Regions from separate parts of the Homo sapiens genome. Here region 2 is linked to region 1. Evidence: fine-mapped expression QTL. A gene starts in region 1. The other region holds a variant in brackets. All regions are shown on one strand. Distances are from middle to middle. Region 1 holds the start of RHBDF2 (rhomboid 5 homolog 2). Region 2 overlaps RHBDF2 (rhomboid 5 homolog 2).

The links. PIP is the estimated chance that this variant, and not a neighbour inherited with it, causes the effect.
Region 2: its variant is fine-mapped to the expression of RHBDF2 in whole blood (TOPMed, PIP above 0.99).

Annotation. Positions count from the first base shown.
Region 1 is chr17:76,499,083-76,503,463 of GRCh38, reverse strand. RHBDF2 (rhomboid 5 homolog 2) reads left to right here and starts at 2,041. Exons shown (of 19, transcript NM_001005498.4): 1 at 2,041-2,111. RefSeq lists enhancers at 1,624-1,763, 2,114-2,783 and a silencer at 1,814-2,453.
Region 2 is chr17:76,479,314-76,483,694 of GRCh38, reverse strand. RHBDF2 (rhomboid 5 homolog 2) reads left to right here. Exons shown (of 19, transcript NM_001005498.4): 3 at 2,150-2,320; 4 at 3,841-3,962. The coding sequence starts at 2,171. Among named protein-coding and RNA genes, the nearest start is that of AANAT, 14 kb to the right of the region's middle. RefSeq lists silencers at 1-148, 1,823-1,872, 1,933-2,032, 2,853-2,922. The variant T/C (reference allele first, on the strand shown) is at 2,437.

The sequences.
Region 1 (4,381 bases):
ACACCAAAACCTTGTCTCAAAACAAAAACAAAGAGTTTAGACAGTGTTTCTCTTTAAGTTATGTAAGTAATATATGCACATGATACAAAATGAAAAGCAAGTGACTCTCTCCCCCTAAACCCCTGCAGGGTTACTCCACAGATATCCTTCCAGAAAGTTTGTATGGATCTACCAACATATATATGTCTGTTCTATTTAAATTTAGGTAAATAGGATTATACTAAACATGCAGCTTGCTTTTTTTTTTTTAACTTACTATAAGTTGGAGATAATTCCTTTCTCAGTACATGGATAGCTGCCTCGTTGCTTTTAACAGCTGTGTGACATTATCACAAGTTATACCCCTGGCCTATTTAACATTCTTCCCTCTCTGGCCTCACAGGTGCGTGTTGCTGCAGCCAAGGCTGTAATCAGCCTCCCTGCACCTATGTGGCCGGGCAGCACGCCATGTTTGCATGGGACAAATCCCTGACACCAGCTTAAGCACCACCATGAATCCCTCCCCTCCTGGGGACTCCTGCAGAGCTTCCAGTAGAGCTCCAGGAGAGAGAACCCAGCTCAGGCATTTGCAGCAGTGTTTGTTAGAGTCTAAAGTCAGATCATGACCGAGTTTAAACCCCAGCTGCTCCCCTCACATCTCCCTCTGCCTCAGTTTTCTCATCCCTAAAATGGGGATGATCATAATGGTACCCACTTCATAGACCTGTACTGCGGATTATACAGACTAAAGCACTTTGGAATGGCTAGCTGCTCTCACCCTTCCTGTTACAGTATTGAGTTCCAACGTCTCCCTGTAGAATGCTGGCACTTCGTGGGCAGGCCCTGGTTTTGTTCCTCTCTGCACATAACCCCAGGATGTGCTGGTTGCACAATAAATGGTCCCTTACATTTGTTACTAGGAGCAACCCCCACCCCAGCTTTGGCCCACTCCCCCTCCTTCCAGCCTGTGCCCTCCTCATGGCCCCAGAGCTGGGGAGGAGAGATGCATCTCTCAGGATAATCTCCAGCAGCCAGGTGCTCCCCACCTCCACCCAGGTCAGCAATAAACACCAGAGTCCTTGGGTTGGGGGGCAGGGTGGCTCAGGAGCTCTCTAAGGGCCAGAGGTTTTGCCTTGGCCCTGACAACCCCACCCCCACCCCTCCAAGCCTGAGTCTCTTCAAACTCTGCTCCTCCTGGCCTAGCCAGGCCTCCTGGAGAGGGACGGCGAGATGATAAGCGCTGGGGCTGAGAACGGGGCATCCAGACCTTGGAGTTCGGTCCTAGCTGCCCTGGCCAAGGTTTTGTTTGTCTAGTCCCAAGAGGCAGGCCCTTGGAGTCCAGGGAAGAGAGAAGGAACCACCTGGGCAGACAGACCCAAGCCAAGGGGCCAGGTGTCGCCAGCGTCCCCAATCTCCAGTCTGGCTCTGGCCCGCATGGCAGCTGGAAGGGCCAGAGCTGGGTGGGTTCTGTCAATGCTTCTACGGGGTGTGTAGGGGGTTGGCAGGAGTCACAAATGTTGGCCTTAGCTGCAGGGCAAATGCAGATAGGACCTCCACGGAGTGCCTGTTCCCAACCCAAGGGCACAGCAGAGCTAGGAGAGAGGCCTCAGGGTCCAGGAGGGAGAGGAGGTGTTCAGGCCCAGCTTCCCGGAGAGAGTGTGACTACAGACTAAAAGGGTCAAGGGAACAGGCCCACTTGGCCTGAGGATGAGGGCGCTGGAAGAAGGGGATGGGAGATTGGGTGCTTTTTCTTGATGGGGAGGGGCGACTTGAAGACGGCAATCAAGACCTAGATGACGTGTTTGGTCTGGGGTGGAGTGAGGACGCCAAGAGGGAAAGGACGGCGCCCTGAAGAGACCAGCTCAGGCGAAAACAGGGCTCTGCCCAGGCGGGGACCCAGCTGGGTGGAGGGCGGAGGCAGGAACCCAGGAAGCCGACTGAGCAAAGACTGCGTCCAGGCCCCGCCCCCATGAGCCCGGCCACGCCCCCTGGAGCCCAGCCCCGCCTCCCGGCCGCCCGCGCGCAGGTAGGGAAGAGGCGGAGCGCCGCCGCCCCGCCCCCGAGGAGCCACCGCCCAGCCGCTCGCAGGCGCCGCACGGAGTTGCGTCCCGGGGACTTGGGGCCGCAGGGAGGTGAGCGCGGGGCGACGAGCGGGGCAGGACTCACGGCCGCCCAGCCGCAGGCGCCGGAAGGGTCCCGAGGTTGTGCCCGAGCCTGCCCTGGAGCGGTGGTGCGCGGCCAGGAAGGGTGCCCAGTGCCCGGTGCCCGCCCTGCGGAGCGCCTGGGTCCCACGTGGGCTCGGCTGGAGGCCCGGGCTGGCTCAGACGGCGCCGGCGGGGCCGCTGGACCCGGTCTGCTGGCCCCTAGGGCTCGGCTCGGACAGGACGCCTAAGGGGTCCCTGGGCGACGGGGCGCCAGATGTAGGGGCAAGACGATTGGGCAGAGATTTAAACCTCCGGAGGAAGAGAGGAGACTGCGCAGGGCAGTCCCGCCTGCGTCCCAGAAGTGCCTGCAGTTCAGACCCTTCTCTCCCCTCCACTTTCTCCCGGGTGAGCACCGGGCGGACCGGGGCCGAAGTTTGTTGGTTGAGCCAGCCAAGGTGGAAACAGGTGCGGGGGTGGGGATGAGGGACTCACACAGCAGGGCTGGACCGGAGCTCAGAAATTGGACCCAGGAGTCCTGACTTCTGGATGGAGGGGCTGGGGAAGGTTGGCCCTGGGCTTGCCTTTTACCTGTTTGGCCCCTCGGATGTTCCCCCAGGGCATTGGGATAGAGACGGATAAGTTCCCTAGGGTACAGACCCCGCCCCACTCCCACGCCAGGGCGCAAAGGAAGCCTAGGTTTTGGCCCTGCCCCATTCCATGAAAGATTAACGGAGGGGGCTCTAGGGTTGGAGCTACTGAGAGGGTGGCAGCGGGTGTGTCTGAGGAGCAGAAGGCGGTGGGGAGCTGACCCCACTTGGGGAGAGGCTGCTGTTGCCTGGGCGGCTGGCATCAGGCCCCCAGTGTGTGCCATTTGCTGGTAATATAATGAGACCAGCATCTGCCTTATTCGACCCTCACTGTCCGTAGGGCAGGCAGTGGAAAGGGAGGCGTGTTTTAGAGCTGTGGTTCTCAACCAGGGGCGACTTTGCCTGCCATGGGATATTTGGCAATGTTGGAGTCATTTTGGGTGTCACACACTTGGGAGGGGAAGTGAGTGTTGTTGTTACTGGCAGGTAGTGGGTAGAGGCCAGGGACGCTACCAGACATCTTCAGGGCACGGAACAGCCCACATAACGAGGAATTATCCAGCCCAAGGTGTTGGGCTGTGCTGAGGCTGAGAAACCCTGCGCAGCAGCTGGTCCATCAGGTTCCTTCTCAATGATGCTCCCTCACTGGGGAAACTACCTCAGTTTTCCAGAGTGGTTAGGGGAGGAACTTGGAATAAACCTGAATGAGATGAGGGGTAAGGCAGTGTGAGGGCACTTATTCCCCTCACAAGAGTCTTCCTTTGGTGCCATGAGACACCGCCTTTCCCAATCTCCACTGGCCCTGCAGGAAGCTGGTCTAGGTGCTGTGGGGGAGAGGTTGGGAACAGAGGACCCCCTTGCAGCCCAGGCCTGGGGTGCTTAACCCCAGGGCAATCTCCCAGGAAGGCTGGGCTGAGGCAGCCCTTGAGCTCAAATATCCCTGGGCTGGGAGGGTGGGCAGAGGGCGAGCTCTCTTCCCATAGATTTTCCCAAAGCTGGATTGCTGAAGCTGGCATGGTTGCCTGATACCATGTGACCTGCTGGAATTTTCCCTTCTGAACTCACACCTAACTCCTCCAATTATGTACACCTTTTGAAAGTGACATCCAAGGAGTATCAGGGCTCCTAATTCCTGGGGGGTCCCCAGGCTGCTTTTGTCCTGCAATAAAGAGGGCACCCTGGGTTAGCTGACGAGCCCTGGAGTGGGCCCAGCTGCTGATGGGGTGGAGGCACCCCTGCCCATGGTGTTAGCTGAGCAGAGGTGAGAGATGGGAGACATCAAAGCACAGGCCAGGTGGCCCCCCAGTAGGGATGACTCAGAGTTGTTTGTATTGGGCTGGAGGAATGTACTTCCAGTTTTCTGGCAACAAGGAGGGGTGGCTGGCACGGTGGGAGAGGATCGGATGAAGCAGCCACGTCCATGCCCAGGAGCTGGGGCCACCTCGCTGCCCTCCCTCCCTGTTTTCTTGCAGTAGCCATTATACCCATCCTGTTCACTTCTGGACCCAGCCTTCTTGCCTGGGAACCCTGGTGGAGGTTTCGAGCTTGGGTTCTTTTTGTTGGTGTTGGTGGCTTTTGTTTTTTTTGTTTTGTTTTGTTTTTGTTTTTGTTTTTTTGGTCTCTTGACTGTAAAAGGCTGAAGTGAAACTCCCACCTTTTCATTTGCACAAA
Region 2 (4,381 bases), 20 kb after region 1:
GTCTCAAATTCCGGAAACATCCTAAATAACCAGCAGTCTGGACTTAAGTAAATCTTGGTGCATTCCACTTATGAAATCTTTGCATTCATCAAAAAAGACAAGAGGCCTAGGGCCGGGTGTGGTGGCTGAAACCTGTAATCCCAGCACTTTGGGAGGCCGAGGCAGGTGGATCACCTGAGGTCAGGAGTTCGAGACCAGCCTGACCAACATGGAGAAACCCCATCTCTACTAAAAATACAAAATTAGCTGGGCGTGGTGGCGCATGCCCGTAATCCGAGCTTCTTGGGAGGCTGAGGCAGGAGAATCACTTGAACCTGGGAGGTGGAGGTTGCGGTGAGCCGAGATCGCGCCACTGCACTCCAATCTGGGTGACAGAATGAGACCCCATCACAAAAAAAAAGAAAAAAGAAAAAAAGTAGGTCTGTCCGTATGTGTTGACAGGGAAAGATGTCTACAATGCAGGTAAAATGATAGAGTGTGGGCTGGGCTTGGTGGCTCACGCCCATAACCCCGGCTACTTGGGAGGCTGAGGCAAGAGAATTGCTTGAACCTGGGAGGTGGAGGGTGCAATGAGATTGGCTCACAGCAATCTCTTCCTCTCGGGTTCAAGTGATTCTCCTGCCTCAGCCTCCCGAGTAGCTGGAACTACAGGAATGAGGCACTATGCCTGGCTAATTTTTGTATTTTAGTAGAGATGGTGTTTCACTGTGTTGGCCAGGCTAGTCTCGAACTCCTGACCTTAAGTGATCCATCCACCTTGGTCTCCCAAAGTGTTGGGATTGTACGTGTAAGCCACCACACACAGCTGTGTGATTTTTTTTTTTTTTCAATGAGCATATGCCACTTTTATTGTTAAACAGTGTTCTCACTATGGGGGAGAAAAGTGCCAGACAGGTGGCAGTTTCAGTTATCTTTTTTTTTTGAGACATTTTCTCACTCTGTCGCCCAGGCTGGAGTGCAGTGGCATGATCTTGGCTCACTGCAACCTCTGCCTCCTGGGTTCAAGCAATTCTCGTGCCTCAGCCTCCCAAGTAGCTGGGATTATAGGCATGCGCCACCACACCTGGCTAATTTTGTATTTTTAGTAGAGACAGGGTTTTACCATGTTGGCCAGGCTGGTCTCAAACTCCTGACCTCAGGTGATCCACCTACCTCGGCCTCCCAAAGTGCTGGGATTACAGGCATGAGCCACGCACCCAGCCAGTTTTAGTTATCTTTGAAAAATGAACTGGGGCTGGGCACAGTGAGCTTGCACCTGTAATCCCAGCACTTGGGAGGCCAAGGCAGGCAGATGGCTTAAGCCCAGGAGTTCCAGACCAGCCTGGCTAACATGGAGAGACCCCCACCTCTACAGAAAAAAGACAAGAAAAATAAACTGGGTGGCCTTGGGGGACAGGGACCAGCACAGTAGGTTTCTCATCTCTCGGCCCACCTCGGCCTCCCCAAGTGCTGGTATTACAGGTGTGAGCCACCGTCCCTGGCCTGCATCTTCATGCTCTTTTCAGGGTTTGGTTCTTGCCTCAAGCGGAGAGATCAGAAATTGAATGAGGTAGTAAGTTGAGGACCTCCCAGACCCATATGGTCCGGGATGCAAATGATGGTCAGAAATAGACCTCACTCCAACCACTGGGCCTGAGGTTCAGCCTGGTTCAGGCTGGGTTTAGTCCCCAGGGATGGTTTGTTTTTGGTTTTGTGTGTGTGTGTGTGTGTGTGTGTGTGTGTGTGTGTGTGTGTGTGTGTGTTTTCAGACAGAGTCTTGCTCTGTCGCCAGGCTGGAGTGCAGTGGCGCGATCTCGGCTTACTATAACCGCTGCCTCCTGGGTTCAAGCCATCCTGCCTCAGCCTCCCGAGTAGCTGGGATTACAGGCACGTGCCACCACGCCTAGCTAATTTTTTGTATTTTTAGTAGAGACGGGGTTTCACCATGTTGGCCAGGATGGTCTCGATCTCCTGACCTCGTGATCCCCCCACCTCGGCCTCCCAAAGTGCTGGGATTACAGGCGTGAGCCACCGCGCCCAGCCGCCCAGAGATGTTTGAACCAACTTTAGGCAAGTTGGTTCTTGGTCTGGGCTGCGTGCCCTGGCGTCAGGGTCCTGACACTGCGCCACCCCGCACCGCCCACCGCTGCTCTCCCGGTCTCCATTCCAGCCCTCCCGCCTCCTGCCCACAATGGCCTCTGCTGACAAGAATGGCGGGAGCGTGTCCTCTGTGTCCAGCAGCCGCCTGCAGAGCCGGAAGCCACCCAACCTCTCCATCACCATCCCGCCACCCGAGAAAGAGACCCAGGCCCCTGGCGAGCAGGACAGCATGCTGCCTGAGGTAAGGGGGCTGGCCTGGGGGCTCACTGTTCTGCCGTAGGTAACAGATGTACCCACGTGACACTTTCTGGTCAGTTTCACTTCCCAGAGGGGCTCCTTCCTGAGCCACAGCTGCTG[T/C]CTGTGCAGCCCTTGACTCGGGCCCTACCCCCTCCTTCCTGGGCCCGAAATATCACAGGGAGTAAAGCCAGGAACCGGGCTCACTCTCATCGTGGTCAGGGGCACACAGGAAGGGCCAGCCCCAAGAAAGTGCTTGCTGGTAACCCTGGGGCCCTGGCTGTTCTCATTTCACCCCCTAGGCCTGGACTCTCAGTCTCTCTTCTGAGGGCTGGGGGCTTTCTTTGACATGGGTGAGCAGGGGACAGTGTCTCCCTGGCATCAGCAGCCCGCCTAGGCAGTGTCCGCTTCCTTTGGGAGGACGAGAACAGATCAGTGTTTCTGACAGTCTGGTCTAGTGCCCCATAAAGAGCTCATTGAAAACCGGCTTGTGGCAGCGTGGGCTTCCTGCACAGTCTGGAGTATAAAGGGAAGCGATGTTAACGCCCCCCGTTCACCCGAGAGCTCTGCAGAAGACACAGCAGCAGGCAGGAGCGTCATGGTGCAGAGGGGAGGGACTGGATGAGGAGTTAGGAAAACACACGCTGGCCTTGACGGAGAAAAGTTAGACAATGGCGATTTTAAATTCAGAATGAGGCTGGGCGAGGTCGCCTCATGCCTGTAATCTCATCACTTTGGGAGGCTGAGGCAGCCAGATCACTTGAGCCCAGGAGTTCGAGACCAGACTAGACAACATAGCAAGACTCTGTCTCTGCAAAAAAAATTAAAAAAGAGCTGGGTGTGGTGGCACATGCCTGTAATCCCAGCTACTTAGGACACTGAGGTAGAAGGCTTGCTTGAGCCTGGGAGGTCGAGGCTCCAGTGAGCTATGATGGTGCCACTGCCCTCCAACCTGGGCAACAGAGCAAGACTCTGTCCCAAAAAATATATATATAGGCCGGGCATGGTAGCTCATGCCTGTAATCCCAGCACTTTGGGAGGCCGAGGCGGCCAGATCACTTGAGGTCAGGCAGGAGTTCGAGACCAGCCTGGCCAACATGGTGAAACCCCGTCTCTACTAAAAATACAAAAATTAGCCGGGTGTGGTGGCACATGCCTATAGTCCCAGCTACTCAGGAGGCTGAGGCAGAAGAATCGCTTGAACCTGGGAGGCGGAGGTGTCAGTGAGTCGAGACCACACCACTGCACTCCAGCCTGGACAATACAGTGAGATTCCATCTCCAAAAAAAAAAAAAAAAAAAAAAAAAAAATATATATATATATATATATACATATACAAACACACACACACACACACACACACACACACACACATTATATATATATATTTCCAAATGAAAGCAAATTGGGGCATAAATCAGGGTTGAAGTTTGTTCTCAGGGTTTTCAGAATAGGAGGCTAAAGAAAAGCCAGCCCAGGACCTGGGCTGCACACACCACCGCCTGCCCTCCCTCCTTCCTCCCCAAGAGGAAGAACCCAGCCTACTTGAAGAGCGTCAGCCTCCAGGAGCCACGCAGCCGATGGCAGGAGAGTTCAGAGAAGCGCCCTGGCTTCCGCCGCCAGGCCTCACTGTCCCAGAGCATCCGCAAGTGAGCCCCCCTACACCCAAGCCCAGCACCCCCCACCCAGCAACCTGTGGATTCTCGGGGCCTGGACATGATTGGGCCTGGTCCCTGCGTCCCCTCTCTGGAAGGAGGAGGCCGGCATTAATGAGCAATGTCTCCCTGTGGCCTATTATCATGGTATAGATGGGGAAATGGGTATGTGCTTTGCGGAATATCACGGTGTGGAGGCTGGGGGGCTTCGAGGAGCTGGGTGGATCAGTGTGGGGGTGCCTGGGGCCCTAGCCTGGCTCCTCACGCTCCCGTCATCCCCTGCTTCTGCTCATCTGGTCACTGGGCTCCAGCCAGGGGCCTCACAGGCAGATCCGCCCCCCACCTCCCTGTAGGCACGCGGGCACACACGTGCCATCACCCCTTCCACACACTCAGGTGCACAGGCGTAGACA